Homo sapiens: one gene and its partner. The protein of the gene in region 2 purifies or fractionates together with the protein of the main gene of each other region. This does not show direct contact. Each region holds a gene or a part of one and is shown on either strand. Other genes may lie near its edges.

The links.
Region 1: the proteins of STPG3 (region 2) and LONP1 purify together in Homo sapiens (affinity purification with mass spectrometry; 3 studies listed by BioGRID and IntAct, with this or other methods). This does not show direct contact.

The regions. Positions count from the first base shown.
Region 1 is NC_000019.10:5,702,398-5,710,688, forward strand, and holds part of LONP1 (lon protease homolog, mitochondrial isoform 1 precursor), read right to left. Parts: intron 6,007-8,291; coding exon 5,945-6,006; intron 5,430-5,944; coding exon 5,300-5,429; intron 4,747-5,299; coding exon 4,663-4,746; intron 3,596-4,662; coding exon 3,375-3,595; intron 1,822-3,374; coding exon of another isoform or gene 1,719-1,821; exon of another isoform or gene 1,334-1,718; intron 1-1,333. UniProt on the Homo sapiens protein: ATP-dependent serine protease that mediates the selective degradation of misfolded, unassembled or oxidatively damaged polypeptides as well as certain short-lived regulatory proteins in the mitochondrial matrix.
Region 2 is NC_000009.12:137,246,053-137,254,242, reverse strand, and holds STPG3 (protein STPG3), read right to left. Parts: upstream 2,958-8,190; 5' UTR 2,957-2,957; coding exon 2,847-2,956; exon of another isoform or gene 2,506-2,846; coding exon 2,348-2,505; exon of another isoform or gene 2,243-2,347; coding exon 2,108-2,242; exon of another isoform or gene 1,807-2,107; coding exon 1,718-1,806; exon of another isoform or gene 1,582-1,717; coding exon 1,278-1,581; exon of another isoform or gene 1,145-1,277; coding exon of another isoform or gene 1,129-1,144; coding exon 998-1,128; coding exon of another isoform or gene 780-997; 3' UTR 760-779; downstream 1-759. Other genes in the region: CIMIP2A (ciliary microtubule inner protein 2A), read left to right, coding at 4,007-4,042, 6,459-6,583.

The DNA.
Region 1 (8,291 bases), on a different chromosome or scaffold from region 2:
TGAGGGGCGCCTCTGCCCGGCCGCCCCTACTGGGAAGTGAGGAGCCCCTCTGCCTGGCCAGCCGCCCCCTCTGGGAGGGAGGAGTGGGGGTCAGCCCCCCGCCCGGCCAGCCGCCCCATCTGGGAGGTGTACCCAACAGCTCATTGAGAACGGGCCATGATGACAATGGCAGTTTTGTGGAATAGAAAAGGGGGAAAGGATTGAGAAATCGGATGGTTGCCGTGTCTGTGTAGAAAGAAGTAGACATGAGAGACTTTTCATTTTGTTCTGTACTAAGAAAAATTCTTCTGCCTTGGGATCCTGTTGATCGGTGACCTTACCCCCAACCCTGTGCTCTCTGAAACATGTGCTGTGTCCACTCAGGGTTAAATGGATTAAGGGCGGTGCAAGATGTGCTTTGTTAAACAGATGCTTGAAGGCAGCATGCTGGTTAAGAGTCATCACCACTCCCTAATCTCAAGTACCCAGGGACACAAACACTGCGGAAGGCCGCAGGGTCCTCTGCCTAGGAAAACCAGAGACCCTTGTTCACTTGTTTATCTGCTGACCCTCCCTCCACTATTGTCCTATGACCCTGCCAAATCCCCCTCTGCGAGAAACACCCAAGAATGATCAATAAAAAAAAAAAAAAAAATTAGCTGGGCGTGGCAGCGGACACCTGTAGTTCCAGCTACTCGGGAGGCTGAGGCAGGAGAATGGCATGAACCCGAGAGGCGGAGCTTGCAGTGAGCCGAGATCGTGCCACTGCACTCCAGCCTGGGCAACAGAGTGAGACTCCATCTCAAAAAAAAAAAAAAAAAAAAATTTACAAACTGCCCTGTCCAAAGCACCCAGTGCAGGAAGGAGGAGATGGCCGGAGGTCCACTGCTGACTCATCAGGAGAGCCAAGACGGCACTGGCTTCTGCCCAGGGCTGAGTGAGCAGAACCACAGAGGGGACGAGGCTTAGAAAATGGGACAAGGCCTGACCCAGGGCAGGTGGGGAAATGGAGGCCAGGTCCCCTGCCGGGAGAGTGACGCTGAAGGTTGGGAGGGCAACTCCATATTGGTCCCCAAGTTGGGAGCCGTGCAGCAGTGAGCAGCGGCCACTATGGGCCAGGAGCAAGTCAGTGAGGGCTGCAAGAGCACACGGCAGGATTGGGGAAGAGGATGAAGAGGAGGACGGCTTCCGAGGAAGGGCCAGGCGGCCCCACGAGCAGACACCGTCAGGGCGCACTGCCACCCAACGGGCATACGAGACGCACCGGGACAGGCCAGCTGGGCCACACGGATGCTGGAGTTTAGAGACACATGAAGTCACTGTGGAAGTGACACAGGCAGTGACACTTTGCGGAGAGCATTCTGGGTGGGAGAGGTAGCTGGCAGCCTGCTGCAGGCATCTTGGTGACACGCAGGTACTGAGGGCTTGTCCCCCGTGACTTCCCAGGACCTGAGGACAGAACCCGCCTTACAGACCCCCTCAGCTCCTGGGGGAAGGAGCTATCTGCTTCTGCAGGACAAGGCCCGGTCTGAGCAGGTACTTCCACCAGCCCAAGGGCAGCTGAGGCACTCGCTGGGAGACAGAAGAACCCCGAAAACATCTACGTTCTCCCCCCACAGGAGGCGGCGGCACAGGCCTCTCACATGGCAGCAGGGAACTGCAGATGGGGCTGAGTGAAGGTCCCCGAGACAGGAGAGCATTCTGGGTGACCCAGGGGGCCCAGGTTCCTCACCAGGTCCTCACGACAGGCGGTGGGAGGTGAGAGACTGACTGGAAGAGGCTGCGCTGTGGCTGTGAAGGAGGAAGGGGCCCCGAGCCGAGGGATGCGGGCGCCTCCAGATACTGGGAAAGGCAGGAAACGGATTCTCCTCTGGAGCCTCTGGGAGGGACGGGCCCGGCCCACAGCGGGATCTCAGGGCTCGGCATTGTGTAAGGCACTAAGTTGTGGCACCGTCGGAGCAGCCATGGGAGCTCACAGGCCACTCACCGAAATCGGGGCGTGCTGGGAGGGGAAGCCACAGCCTTCGCGCGCAACCAGTGCCTCTCAGGGCCCTGGGGGAGAGACTCCGGCGACCGTGACATTCAAATCTGAGGCGGGGTCCTGGGCCAGCAGCCAGGAAAGAAACTCATGCCTTCCCTCTAAGCGCTGTCCTACGGCCTGCCCAGCCCTGCCCCGGGGACTTCTGCCTAGAAGCTGCCCTGGCGTGACAACTGGTTCCTGGGCTGAAAACAGAGCATGCTGCATGGGAAGTGGCCAGGTGGGTTCTGTCCTGGCTGGACATGGGCATGGCTGAAAGGATCTCAGAGGTACCTGAGGCCCTCAAACCTGGGGCGGCCACCCTGACTCATGGCATGCTCAGGACAGTGGCCCCCGGGCAAGGCCAGTGCTGCGGGAAGGCATGGTCACTTCCTGGCTGACTCTCGAAGGGGCAACAGAAGCCAGGGGTAGCCTTGCAAAGACAGCCATGGGGACTCCTGGTCCTGGCGAGAAGGCCTGGCTTAGGCCAGGCGTGGTGGCTCATGCCTGTAATCCCAGCACTTTGGGAGGGCAAGGTGGGCGGATCCCTTGAGGTCAGGAGTTTGAGACCAACCTGGCCAACATGGCAAAACCCCATCTCTACTAAAAATACTAAAAATTAGCTGGGTGTGGTGGCACATGCCTGTAATCCCAGCTACTCAGGAAGTTGAGGCAGTAGAATCGTTTCAACCTGGGAGGTGGAGGTTGCAGTGAACCAACATTGCACCACTGTACTCCAGCCTGGACAACAGAGCAAGACTCTGTCTTAAAAAAAAAAAAAAGCCAGGCATGGTGGCTCGCGCCTGTAATCCTAGCACTTTGGCAGGTCAAGGCAGCCGGATCATTTGAGGTCAGGAGTTCGAGACCAGCCTGAACAACATGGTGAAACCCCATGTCTCCTAAAAATACAAAAAATTAACCAGGCGTGGTGGTGCATGCCTATAGTCCCAGATACTTGGGGGACTGAAGCAGGAGAATTGCTTGAACCCGCAAAGCGGAAGTTGCAGTGAGCCAAGATTGTGCCACTGCACTCCAGTCTGGACAACTGAGCGAGACTCCATTTCAAAAAAAAAAAAAAAAAAAAGCAGCCCTGGCTTAGAGCCAGGCGTCCCTGGGCTCAAATCCGTGGCACCACCTGCCAATTCACAGGCCCTGGCCACCAGCTCAACAGCCCCGAGCCTCGATTTCCTTGTAGAATGGAGATGGTGATGATGTGTCCTGCCCAGAACAGGGCTGATACTCGCTGGATGCCTCCCAGCCCGCACCTGCCACACCAAGAAGGTGCCACGGGGCTCCCCGCTGGGTCCCCTGGCCTGCCTAAGATGGGGGCTGAGGAGGGGTCACCTGAGGGCTGGGCCGCCCCGGGCCTGGCACTCACTTGAACTCCGAGGAGTGGTTGTCCAGCAGGCCCAGCTTGCTCAGCTCCTCGTCCACAACATCCATGACGTGCTTGGGGACCACGAGCTCCTTCAGGCGCTCCCGGAACTTCTCCTCGATGGCATCCTTGTCGTCCTTCTCCAGGCCCAGCTCCTTCTTGATGATCTTTAGCTGCTCCTGCAGCAGGTACTTACGGTGGGTCTGCTTGATCTTCTCCTCCACCTGTGGGGTGAGGTGCTGCCATCAGGCCCTGGCTCCGGGAAGCTGGGTGGGTGGGTGCGTCCCCAGACGAAGGGGGACCCTCTGCTCCCCCAGGACTCAGAGAGAAAAGAAACGAAACCCAGAGCACGAAGCCTTTGGTTCCTTCCATCTTCTTTTGTTTTTGAGACAGGGTCTACCTGTGTTACCCAGGCTGGAGTGCAAAGGCACCATCATAGCTCACCGTAGCCTCCACCTCCTGGGCTCAAGCGATCCTCCTGCCTTAGCCTCCTGAGTAACTGGGACCACAGGCACCTGCCACACCTGGCTCTAATTTTAAAATTTTTTGTAGAGATGGGGCCAGGCGCGGTGGCTCACGCCTGTAATCCTAGCACTTTGGGAGGCTGAAGCGGGCGGATCACTTGAGGCCAGGAGTTCAAGACCAGCCTGGCCAACATGGTGAAACCCTGTCTCTACTAAAATACAAAAATTAGCCGGTGTGGTATTGCACGCCTGTAATCCCAGCTACTCGGGAGGCTGAGGTGGGAGGATCACTTGAGCCCTGGAGGTGGAGGCTGTAGTGAGCTGAGATTGCGCCATTGCACTCCAGCCTAGGTGGCCGACTGAGACCCTGTCTTAAAGTAAAAAATTCTGAAAAATGCTACGACCGTGAGGTGACCGGCCATCAGGCAGGCTGTGATCTGCCGAAAATCATGACAGCGAGCCTCAATGGCTGGGTCTTAAGAAACAGCATCTTCACTTTTCCCAGGCTGCTTTCCAATTTCCAACACTGTCCCCAAGATTACAAAGGCAAAGGAATTCTTCCCTTAATGTTGGACGGTCCTGAGACTGCTCCACCCTGGGCTCATTACACTGGGACCAGCTTTAAGCTTCCCTGTTCAACGCGGAGAGTTCCACAGCCCAGGACGACAGAGCAGATGATGGCACGAAGCCCTCAAAACCCAGACAGGCCTTCTTGGCTTGCCCTGGCCGATGCCACCGGTCCCTCCGTGTGCTCCAGAGCCTGACTGATGTCACGTGGCCCGAGGGGAAGGCCCCCAAGAGTGGCTGCGCCTCAGCCGCGGGCTCACCTCCCGCCCCAGGCGCTGCTGCAGCTTGCTCAGTTCAAATTCCTTCTTCAGCAGGGAGAGGGCCTTGTACAGCCGCTTAGGAATCTGCCGAGACAGGGAGGACAGAAAGGATGAGCAGAAGTCGGCATCTGTGTGTGTAGGGCCGAGGTTGGGGGAAAATGCGCACCCTGAGAGATGCTGCCGGGAGGACCTGGCCATGCTGTACCCAGCACAGAGGCATGTGTGCCCTCTGCCCCAACAAATCCCGTGCTGGAAACGCATCCTACGGATACTTCACAGGCCCTCCAGCTGCGTGCATGGGGACGCGCTCAGGAGTGCTGCTCACAACAGCAAAAGACTGGCAACGCCCCGGGTACACGGCCCAGAGGATCCCACTGAACCCGCAACGGTGACTCCCAACCGAAGGCTATGAAGCCACCGAAAGGCGGATGGATGTGGACCAAGACACGCAGCGGGAAATCATCTCAAAAACAGAGCCAGGGACACACAGCTGGGTGTGGATGGTGCACGGTGGAGGGACAAGGGCAGCCAGGCATGGGGGAGCTGAGGAGGAACGGGGGCAGCCGGGCGTGGGCGGAGCATAGTGGAGGTGGGGTGCAGCCAGGCGTGGGGGGCTGTGGAGGTGACGAGCACTCACATTGGTCTCTTCCAGGACGTCCTGCAGCTCATGGGACTCGGCCCCGGTGAGCGCGGCGCCCATGTCGCTCAGGTAGATGGGGTTGTCCACCACCCGCTGGCCAGCCTGCATCATCTGCAGCACTGACTCCCTGGGGGACAAAGGGAGCTGCCTCGGTGGCCAGGGCCTCACGCTCTGCTGCAGTGCAGCCCCCAAACGGGGACCCGGTCCTCAGGGTCCCTGTCCCCTGTAGCTATGGGCACGGTCTAGGGGTGCTCGCTGGGAGCCAGCTCTGCTGCTTGTTCTCCAGAGTTCAGGGCCCACCCGTCCTGGGCTGGAAAGGCATGCAGCATCCTCACGTGCAGCCACCACGGGAGCCGTGCAGTGACCTCACCTCAGCAGTCTGCTCCCCACTCCCCCAGCCAATGCCACCAACAGCTTCCGGCCTCAGCAGAAGGGGACAAAGAAACTGGGCCTGCTGAGTCGGCCCCGGGCCTCCCACCTGCCCCATGCCCCAGTGGGCAACGGGCTCCTCCACACAGGCCACTCCTTGGGGCAGGCAAGGTTTCCTCCCAGGAGGACGCTGAGGAAGCCCCCTACCCACCCAGCTGCAGAAAGAGCTGCAGAGATGCCCCCGCCTGGCCAGCTGCCCGCACAGAGGCCCACCTGTAGAGAGGGTTCAAGGCAATGATGTCCCGGATGGTCTTCACGATCTCTGCAGTCAGGGCCTGCCAAGTATGGGGCAGGGTCGCTGGGGCCCAGCAGTGCTCCAGCAGGGGGTGGGCTGGGTGGGAGCATGGCCCTGGGAGCCCCACCCACCAGCTCCATCAACTCCCTCCCCTCCGCCAACTGGCCCTGGCCACGGACGGCCTGGGAGATGGAGGAGTGCAGTCCCTGGTGGACTCACCAGTCCCAGGGACACAGGACCAAGAGAGTCAAAACTAAAACCAAACCCTGTCTCCTTACCCCTCAGAGCCTTGTCCTTAGGATAAGCTATCTCAGGGGAAAAAAAGAGACTGTGTTTTCTTTCCTCCATTTTTTAAGAGACCAAGTCTTGGCCGGGCGTGGTGGCTCACGCCTGTAATCCAAGCACTTTGGGAGGCCGAGGCGGGTGGATCATGAGGTCAGGAGATCGAGACCCTCCTGGCTAACACAGTGAAACCCCGTCTCTACCAAAAAATACAAAAATTAGGCGGGCGTGATGGCGGGCGCCTGTAGTCCCAGCTACTCGGGAGGCTGAGGCAGGAGAATGGCGTGAACCCAGGAGATGGAGCTTGCAGTGAGCCGAGATCGCGCCACTGCACTCCAACCTGGGCGAAAGAGCGAGACTCTGTCTCAAAAAAAAAAAAAAAAAAAAAAGACCAAGTCTTGCTCTGTCACCCAGGCTGGCGTGCAGGGCTGCAATCATGACTCACTGCAGCCTTGAATTCTTGGGCTCAAGCGATCCTCCCCGCTCATTTTCCGGAGTAGCTGGGACCACGGGCATAAGCAACTGCACCTGCCTACAACCAAATTTTAATCACCTGGTCTTGGCCGGGCGCGGTGGCTCACACCTGTAACACCAACACTTTGGGAGGCAGAGTTAGGTGGGTCACTTGAGGCCAGGAGCTCAAGACCAGCCTGGCCAACACGGTGAAACCCCATCTCCACTAAAAATACCAAAAAAAAAAAAAAAATTAGCCAGGTACTTTGGTGGGTGACTGTAATCCCAGCTACTAAGGAGGCCGAGGCAGGAGAATCACTTGAACCCAGGAGGCGGAGGTTGCCATGAGCCAAGATTGCGCCAGTGCACTCCAGTCTGAGTGACAGGGTGAGACTCTGTCTCCAAAGAAACCGTAATCACCTGGTCTCTAGTCTTTGGCTTTGACGCTGAACTGTCTGAGCTGACCCTGGTAGAAGGCACCAGAACAGGCCCACTGGAGGTCCGGGGCACTTGCTTTAAGAATAAGTTCAGCTGGGCACAGTGGCTCACGCCTGTAACCCCAGCACTTTGGGATGCTAAGGCGGGCGGATCACGAGGTCAGGAGATCCAGACCATCCTGGCTAACACGGTGAAACCCCGTCTCTACTAAAAAATACACAAAAAATTAGCCGGGTGTGGTGGCGGGCACCTGTAGTCCCAGCTACTGGGGAGGCTGAGGCAGGAGAATGGTGTGAACCCGGGAGGTGGAGCTTGCGGTGAGCCGAGATCACGCCACTGCACTCCAGCCTGGGCGACAGAGGCTCCATCTCAAAAAAAAAAAAAAAAAAAAAAAAAAAGAACAAGTTCGCTGCCCCTAAGGGGTCTTGCCAGTTCTAATCACATTTGTAAGTTTGGTCGCTGTCTTCCCCCTGTTGCAAGATTCTCACAGGGAATGCCCCAATGCTGAGCTGCCCAGGACAGTGTAGCCGCTGGTGGCTGTCTGAATTTTTTTTTTTTTTTTTTGAGACAGAGTTTTGCTCTTGTTGCCCAGGCTGGAATGCAATAGTGCAATCTCGGCTCACCGCAACCTCTGCCTCCCAGGTTCAAGCAATTCTCCCGCCTCAGTAATCCCGAGTAGCTGGGATTACAGGCATAAGCCACCACACCTGGCTAATTTTTTTTTGTATTTTTAGTAGACACGGGGTTTCTCCATGTTGGTCAGGCTGGTCTCAAACTCCTGACCTCAGGTGATCCGCCCACCTCGGCCTCCCAAAGTGCTGGGATTACAGGCGTGAGCCCACCGTGCCCGGCCTGAATTTTTTTATTTTAATTTTTAGATACAGGGTCTCACTCTGTTGCCCAGGCTGGAGTGCAGTGATGCGATCACAGCTCACTGCAGCCTCAATCTCCTGGGCTCAAGCGATCCTCCCACAGGTTAGACCACTGGTGTGTGCGACCATGCCCAGGGATTTTATTTTTTTTGTGGAGACAGGGGTCTCAATATTGCCCAGGCTGGTTTTGAACTCCAGGGCTCAAGTGATCCTCCTTCCTTGGCCTCCAAAAGTGTTGGGATGACAGGCATGAGACACTGTACCCAGCCAATAAAATGTT
Region 2 (8,190 bases):
TCCTGAGCCTGGGATTCCTCTCTGAGAAAGGGGGTGGTGCTGAGGCCACAGAAGCAGCTGCCCAGAGCCTTTTTGAAGGGGTTGAGCTCTGGGCCTGGTCTGGGTCCTGGGTCTGGGGAGGACCTGGGGAGGTGCGGGTGACGGCACCGCAGGTAAGGCTCCTGCAAGGTGGCAGCCTTGGGGCCCGACCCTGGGTAGGAGGGCAGGCCAGTGATGACAAGGGAGGCCCCAGCCAGGCGAAGTTGCAGGCAGGGGCAGTGCAGGGTCCCAGCAGGTGAAGGCCCCGGGAGTGGAGTCTGCAGGGCCCTGGGCCAGAGTGTTCAGGGCACAGGTGACTAAGCCCAGCCAGGTCTTCAGCTCAAGGCCTAGGGGAAGTGGGGCTGGGCCCTGGTGAGCAGATCCCTGGGCCCTTCCTGAGGTCTGGCCAGGCCGACCCCACCTGGAGGTGGCGGCTCAGGGCATTTGACGCCTCCTTCCCAGTTCCCTGGCTCGGCAAGCAGCTGACCCTCAGGTGGACAGCAGCTAGACCAGGCCCCTGAGTGACACGGCTGGGTGGGGGTGTCCCACAGAGCCCACCTCCCATCTCGCTCCAGGCTAGAGCTCAGGGTCAGTCACAGGCTGCCACCCTAGAGAAGAGAGCACCTTTCAGGGGCAGCTGAATGGAGACCCCTCAACAGGGAAAGCCGGAAATGACCCAGCGGCAGCCATATCTCTAGGACCGCCCCCGGGTGAAGGACAGACAACTGCACACCACAGAGCTCGGGAAAACCAACAGCATCTCAGTGTAGCGGGGAGATGGGCAGATGGGGGATCCAGGCTGGGCCAGCCTTGTCCACAGCCCATAGAAGGGTTGGCCAGCCAGAAGGGTGCATCGGGGTGCCCAGAGGGTCAGAAGGCCAGGCTGGGGCCCCAAGTCCCAGGGGAGGCCTGGGAAAGCCCCGGGGGAGGCCATGGTTCCACTCGGTGGCCGGGCCAAGCAGGTTGTGCCCAGCTGGCTCTAGAGCGTGCAGAAGGGGCCTGTGTCGTGGCGCTTGGGTCTGCGTACACCCTGGATGACCACGCCAGGCGCCGAAGGGAAGCGTGAGTTGCAGTCCTCCACGTGGTAGGCGGCTGGGCCAGGGGTTCGGGCTGCCGAAAGAGAAGGCTGGGAGCCCCACCCAGGTAGCAGCCCCAACTCAAACCTGGCTCCCAGTTCCCACCCCCGGCCCCTGAACCCTTGTCCTCACATTGCCCACCCATGCCCCATCCCTAGCCCTCTTCTCTCCAGGCCTCCTTACAGGTGCTGAGCCAGGAGGTGAACGCAGGGGAGCGGCTCATCGAGAAGGCCGGCGAGCGGGGGCTCTGCAGGCGGCTCCCAGGAAGGATATTGTAGGTGTTGGGGCCAGGGCATCTCTTGCCAGGTGCCTGCAAAGAGGCCTGAAGCAGGGACTGGGGCTGCACCCTGAGGCCCAGCCCCCTAGCCCCAGGCAGCCCTAGGTGGGTGTGGCCTTCAGGTGTCTTGGAAGCGGAGTGGCAGCCTCTGAAGCTGAAGGCGGGGAAGGCGGGCCGGCTGAGCAGCTGGTAGTGGGCTGGCGAGGGCCACTGCGAGGGGGTAGGAGACGGGCTGCAGGGCAGGGTGCTCCCCACGGACCCTCAGCCAGCCCCCCTTTGGCCCCACTGGAACCCCCAGCCCCCTGCCTGCGTGGACTCCCCGCCCCCTTCCTGCCCAGCCCCCAACCTTTTGCTCTTGGTCGAAGTCAGCTTTCTGCGTGAAGGGGCTTTCGCTCTGGAACCACAAAGTCTGCCATGCCCTGCGGCCACCGCCCTCTGTAGTTGGAGGATGGAGAGAGAGAAGGCTGGGAGCCCCACCCAGGTGACAGTCCCCACTCGAACCTGTCTCCCGGTTCCCACCCTCGGCCCCTGAACCCTTGTCTTCACAATGTCCACCCATGCCCCAGCCCTAGCCCTCCTCTCTCCAGGCCTCCTTACAGGTGCTGAGCCTAGAGGTGAACGCAGGGAAGGGTGGAGGGGCCCTCAGGCCGTGGGGGTTTCAGCACAGAGGCAAAGGCCCCCATTCCCAGGGTGAGGGACAGGCCCGGTGGTTGGGCCTCAGGGAGGGGACACACACCTCGGCCCTGGTGCTTGCAGCCGATGCTGTAGTGGGGGTGTGGGGAGGACTCTCGTACGGACGGGCTCGGCACCTGGTACCTGGTGGGGCTGGGGACTTCCAGGTCAGCTGTGATCAGGGGGCGTTGCTCCAGCACTGGCCACAGGAAGCAAGCTCTGGGCCTGGGCTCCTTTCAGCGGGCCCCTCCCACAGCCCCCCAAAGACCAGCTTGGGGGTGGGGTGGCCAGGACCCTCACTCACATAGTTCCCTCAGGGTCTGGGTGTAGGTGGGCAGGGACTCCTGGGGGGTGCCCGTCTGTAACCTGAGGCCAACTGGGATCTCCTTCATCTTTGGGGGCTGTGTCTCATCCCAGGCCATCCCCGGCTCCGGGCCCAACAACAGCACAGATGCCTTGGGCCTGCAAGGGAGACCAGCAGCCACTGTCTCAGCCCCCGGCCGCTCCCAGCCACATGCCCCACAGCCTGTCCCCTCTATTGTCCCTCAGCCCCCGGCTGCTCCCAGCCACGTGCCCCACAGCCTGTCCCCACACTGTCCCTCAGCCCCTGGCCGCTCCCAGCCGCCTGTCCCCTCTACTGTCCCTCAGCCCCTGGCCGCTCCCAGCCGCCTGCCCCACAGCCTGTCCCCACACTGTCCCTCAGTCCCCCAGCCGCCTGCCCAGCAACCTGCCCCCCACACTGTCCCTCAGCCCCCTGGCCACTCCCAGCTGGCCCGCCCCTTCTCCCCCTCTCCGCCAGTTACTGGGTGGGCTCTGGTTGTGTCTGCCTCAGGTGACCATGGGTCCAGTGTTTGCCTCCATTGATGTAAAAATTTGCCAGGAATTTCACTGCCTTCTGGTCAGAATTCATCATCAGAGTCTCCTGGCTCTCTTCCCCAACGGCACCACGGAGCTCTGTGACCTCACTGGTAGGCCCCTCTGTTGCTGGGACTCCTGAGGAAGACACATTGTCTGGCCCTGGAGGGGCTGCCCCGGGCCCCGACCCCTGGTGGGCCCCTCCCCCACTAACTAGATGATCAGCGGGTCCGCCTGGGCCAGGACCCCCAGCCTGCCCCGGTGACTCCTGGCCCAGCCCTCTCCCTCCCCGCAACCTTTCCAGCCTTCTCCCCTCTCCTGCACCCTGGGGTCTCCTGGGAGTCTGGGGTCCACTCTAGCAGGTCTGGGAGGACTGAGGCCTCAGCAGAGGGGGTGGAGGGAACAGGACCCACCGGCATCCACCAAGCCCTAGGAGATGCCCAGCTGTGTCTGGCCAGCCAGGACCCCCTGGGGGTAGGAGGGAGGGGCCCAGGAAGGCTCCCTGGAGGAAGAGGAGGAGCCGCCACCCCATCTGGATTTCCACTTAAGGGAAAAGCAAATCCACATCAGATGGGTCTGACACCAGAGGCAGGCCGGGCCTTGGAGCCCAGCCAGGGCTGGGGTGTGAGGGCCTACCTCTCACCTGGGGGCACAGAGGCTAGAGGGTGTCACAGATGGCCGGGCTGCCAGAGCTGCAAAGGAACAGCCAGCCTGTGTGAGCAAGAGCCCGTGTGGGCACCAGGGCCCTCACTGTGTGGTCTCTGGAGCTGACCACCAGTTGGTCCCAGCCCTGACCTTGGCCCAGAATCCACCAGGGCAGGGCCTGTGAACAGGGCCAACTTGGGGCCCTCCTCCGCCCTCTCTGGATGCCTCCCCTTCAGCACTGGGCCTGCCAGGCAGACAGATGGACACGTGCTTGAGGAAACACGGGTTTTATCTGGGCGAGGGGTTCACGCCTGTGCTCCGGGGCCCCTGCCCAGGTTGTGCCGGGTTCAGAGTTGACTGGCTGCCAGTGGAACAGAGTGTACTTTGCTAATGAAGCCCTTGTCATTGGACAGATAGGCTCCTCCAGGTCCTCCCTGCCCTGTAATAAACGTTGCCACCGTGAATGGTGCTGCTGGACATCCATCCTCTCCTTGAGAAGGTGCGTGGGGGAAATGCTCTCTCAGTGTCCGGCTCTGCGCCCACACCACCACAGCCGTCACAGAAGGAGGCCTCTGCCCAAATGTTGAGGGAGGGGGGTTGTTCCCCACACACCAAGCTGGGTGTCCTCTAATTCATTTCCTTCACCATTTACCTGGAGATGGTGTCAGATCCCACAGGGTGAGAGCTCCATCCCAAGAAGGCCTCCAGACACAGATAGGGGCAGGGCCTCCAGACACACACCAGTCGCAAGCCTGGGCCCCTGGAACTTCTGACCAACTAGCTTCAATTTGGGGTTCCTGTGACACCGTCTTTGGGTTAATTTGCTGGAGCCACTCATAGAACTAGGGAAGTTATGACGTTTACTGGTTTATTGTAAAGGGTATTGATTGCAAAGGATACCAATGAAGAAGCGTAGAGAGAGGCACGGGGAGGGGCTGGCGCTTCCATGTCCTCGCTAGTTGCCGCCCTCTGGGAACCTCCAGGTGTTCCCCTGTCCAGAAGTTCCCTGAGCCTCAGTCCTCTTGGGATTTTACGGAAGCTTCCTGATGTCAGCATTCCTGCCCCCAGGGCTTAGGTGGGACCTCTCCTGGAAGGGTCTTAAGACCCACAGTCAGAAAGGTGAGAATGTTAGCGTCCTGCCTTGGGGCAGGTGAAAGGAGGGCAGGAGGTAAAAGTCCCCCGCCCGCACCCCCCAAGCATCACCCACCCAACATTCTAACAAAAGGCCCTACCAAGGGCTATGGGAATATGGGAATTACCAGCCAGGAACGGTGGAGGAAAACCAGCGTCTACCAGAATGCCAGACAGCTTCTTAGGAGTGGAAGCAATGGTCCCAGTTTGCAGTGTCTTGTATGGACGTGATCCATACCAACTTGGTTTCCAGAAGGCACCACCCAAATTAGAGGCCCTTCTCACTGTGACCCTGCCGGCAGTAAGCCTCAGAAACTGCTCTCAACACACAGTCAGCATGTATGTGATTATGGTCCTGCTTTATGCCCTTATATTTACGGACTGCGGTCTTTTTTTCTTAAAAAGGTCATATTGGCCGGGCACAGTGGCTCACGCCTGTAATCCCAGCACTTTGGGAGGCCGAGGTGGGCGGATCACGAGGTCAGGAGTTCGAGACCATCCTGGCTAACATGGTGAAACCCTGTCTCTACTAAAAATACAAAAAAAAAAACCATATTAGTCTGCATTTTCCATGGAGGTGTTGTTTATATCTTTGTTTTGTGAGAGCTTTTTATGCTGATACCAGATTTGTTCATAGCACTTACTGCAAACTTTTTTCCAGTTTTTTAGTTTGCCTTTTAGTTGTTTTTTTGTTTGTTTGTGAGAAATGGTCTGGTTCTGTTGCCCAGGCTGAAGTGCAGCGGTGCGATCTCAGCTCACTACAGCCTCAACCTCCTAGGCTCTGGCCATCCTCCCACCTCAGCCTCCCAAGTAACTGGGATCACAGGCACATTCACCATGCCTGGCTAATTTTTCTTTCTTTTTTGTAGAGGTGGGGTTTCCCCATGTTGCCCAGCTGGCCTGAACTCCTAGGCTCAAGCAATCTGCACACCTCATCCTGCCTCGGCCTCCGAAAGCACCGCAATTATAGGCATGAGCCACAGTGCCCAGCCTTTCTTCTTTCTTTCTTTTTTTTTTTTTTTTTTTGAGACAGAGTCTCACTCTGTGGCCCAGGCTGGAGTGCAGTGGCACGATCTCAGCTCATTGCAATCTCCACCTCCTGGGTTCACGCCATTCTCCTGCCTCAGCCTCCCGAGTAGCTGGGACTACAGGCGCACGCCACCGCACCTGGCTAATTTTTGTATTTTTAGTAGAGACGGGATTTGACTATGTCAGTCAGGCTGGTCTCGAACTCCTGACATGATCTGCCTGCCTCGGCCTCCCAAAGTGCTGGGATTACAGGTGTGAGCCACCGTGCCTGGCCGCCTTCCTTCATTTTTATGGTTAGGAAGTCCTTCCTGTACAAAAAAAGAACAAAATTCAGGATTTGCTTAAAATGTAAACATAACACCCTGCGCCACATGAAGGGCTGGAGGGAGAGTTCGCACAGCCCTGCAGGCCGGGAAGCCCCTGACTCGAGCCAAGGCTCTGCAGCTGCAAGGCCTCCTGTCAGAGGAGGGGGCCTGGGGACTCCCTTAGCCTCACCCTGAGACTGGGGCTGGTGGCCTCCTGGGGGCAGCAAGAGCCCAGGCCCTTTCTGGAGGGACAGTCCTGTTTTCTGAGCTCTGAAGTTAATGGGACTTCCTCCCGGACCACCTGCCTCACCGCAACTCCTCCCCTGCCTGGCACCTGTCTGGGCCTCAGTGTCTCACCTGTGCAATGTGGGCCCTCACAGGGTTAGCGAGGTGGCCTGGCCCAGGAGGTGCCCACAATGCTGGCCCCTCACAATGGTTGCCCGGTGACAGGACTCCCCTCAGGGAAGGGAGCTGGATGCCGGGAGGGACTGGAGCCAGCAAGGCCAGAGTGAAAGCAAAATGACAACTACTCAGAAACACGATCTCTTCACGCCGGAGCCTCACTATGTCCCTGGGTGAGAGCCGGGAGCTCTGGAGGTGGCTGGGGCCAGGGCTGCAGGAGGGGGAGAATGGCTGGGGCCTGAGGCATGGAGGCCAGCTGTGAGGGGCCCAGAGCTGGACCCCAGGAAACTGAAGGCCACACCACGGGGCACTGCAGTCTGTGGGCTGGGGAGCCCTGGGACAGGGGAAGCTCAGGGATGGGGTTGCCAGGGGCCCAGGCCTCACCCTCCCTGCTGGTGTGCAGCTGCGAACTCGATACCTGGTGGCCAGCACGTCTGTCGAGCAGAAACTGGGTCAGCCAGCAGCCGGCAGAGGCCGGCTAGTAAGTGCCCGACGCCCACTCCAGAGAGGACTCCACACTTCATTTCATTTTATTTATTTATTTTTTGAGACAGAGTTTCGCTCTTATTACCCAGGCTGGAATGCAATGGTGCAATCTTGGCTTACCGCAACCTCTGCCTCCCAGGTTCAAGCGATTCTCCTGTCTCAGCTTCCGGAGTAGCTGGGATTACAGGCATCTGCCACCACACCTGGCTAATTTTGTATTTTTAGTAGGGACGAGGTTTCTTTATGTTGGTCAGGCTGGTCTCGAACTCCTGACCTCAAGTGATCTGCCCACCTCGGCCTCCCAAAGTGCTGGGATGACAGGCTTAAGCCACCACGCCCGGCCAGGACTCCACACTTTAAAGACAAGGCAAGCAAACGCCAGGCTGCCTCACTAGATATCCCCCCAAACAAAAAATAAAAGTAACCCCTCTACGGAACGTGTGTGTGTGTGCACCTACATACACACACGCTACATGCAAAGGGGAAAGGCTGGGAAGAAACCACACCTGCCTCTGAACAGCTACGTCTGGGGAAGGGGCAGGTGAAGCTGAGGCTGGAAGTTGCTCGGCTTTTTTTTTTCTTTTGAGACGGAGTCTCGCTCTGTTGCCCAGGCTGGAGTGCAGTGGGGCGATCTTGGCTCACTGCAAGCTCCGCCTCCTGGGTTCACGCCATTCTCCTGCCTCAGCCTCCCGAGCAGCTGGGACTACAGGGCCCGCCACCAATGCCTGGATAACTTTTTGCATTTTTAATAGAGACAGGGTTTCACCATGTTGGCCAGGATGGTCTTGATCTCCTGACCTCGTGATCCGCCCGCCTCAGCCTCCCAAAGTGCTGGGATGACAGGCGTGAGCCACCGCGCCCGGCCCTTTGGCAGTTTTTAAGACGAAGGTAGTTCTCACTCCTTGAAAGATCACATAGACCCTGAGGCGCTGAACCGCCTGTGACCACCTGCACCATGCCCCTCGAGGTTGAATGAGGGCCCGGAAAAGCCCAGCCCTCCACCTGCCTCCCAGTTCTCTTCCCGTGCAGGAGGCTACTGGCCTCCTGGGGTGGCACAGGTGCAGGCCAAGCCCACGCAACACCCTCCTGGTGGGCCCTGCGTGTGTCCAAGGGTCCGTCCCTCGCCTATGTCCTGGCCCACACGTCTTGTGCCTGTACTTGCTTTGCCAGGGCAGAGCACCCCTGATTTGCTGGCAGTTGGAATGAGGGGTGGGAGAGGGTTGGAGGGGCTGGTACAAGGCAGGCGGCCATCTGCTGTGGTGCTGACGTGTTCCCAGCATGTGGTGTGTGCCGC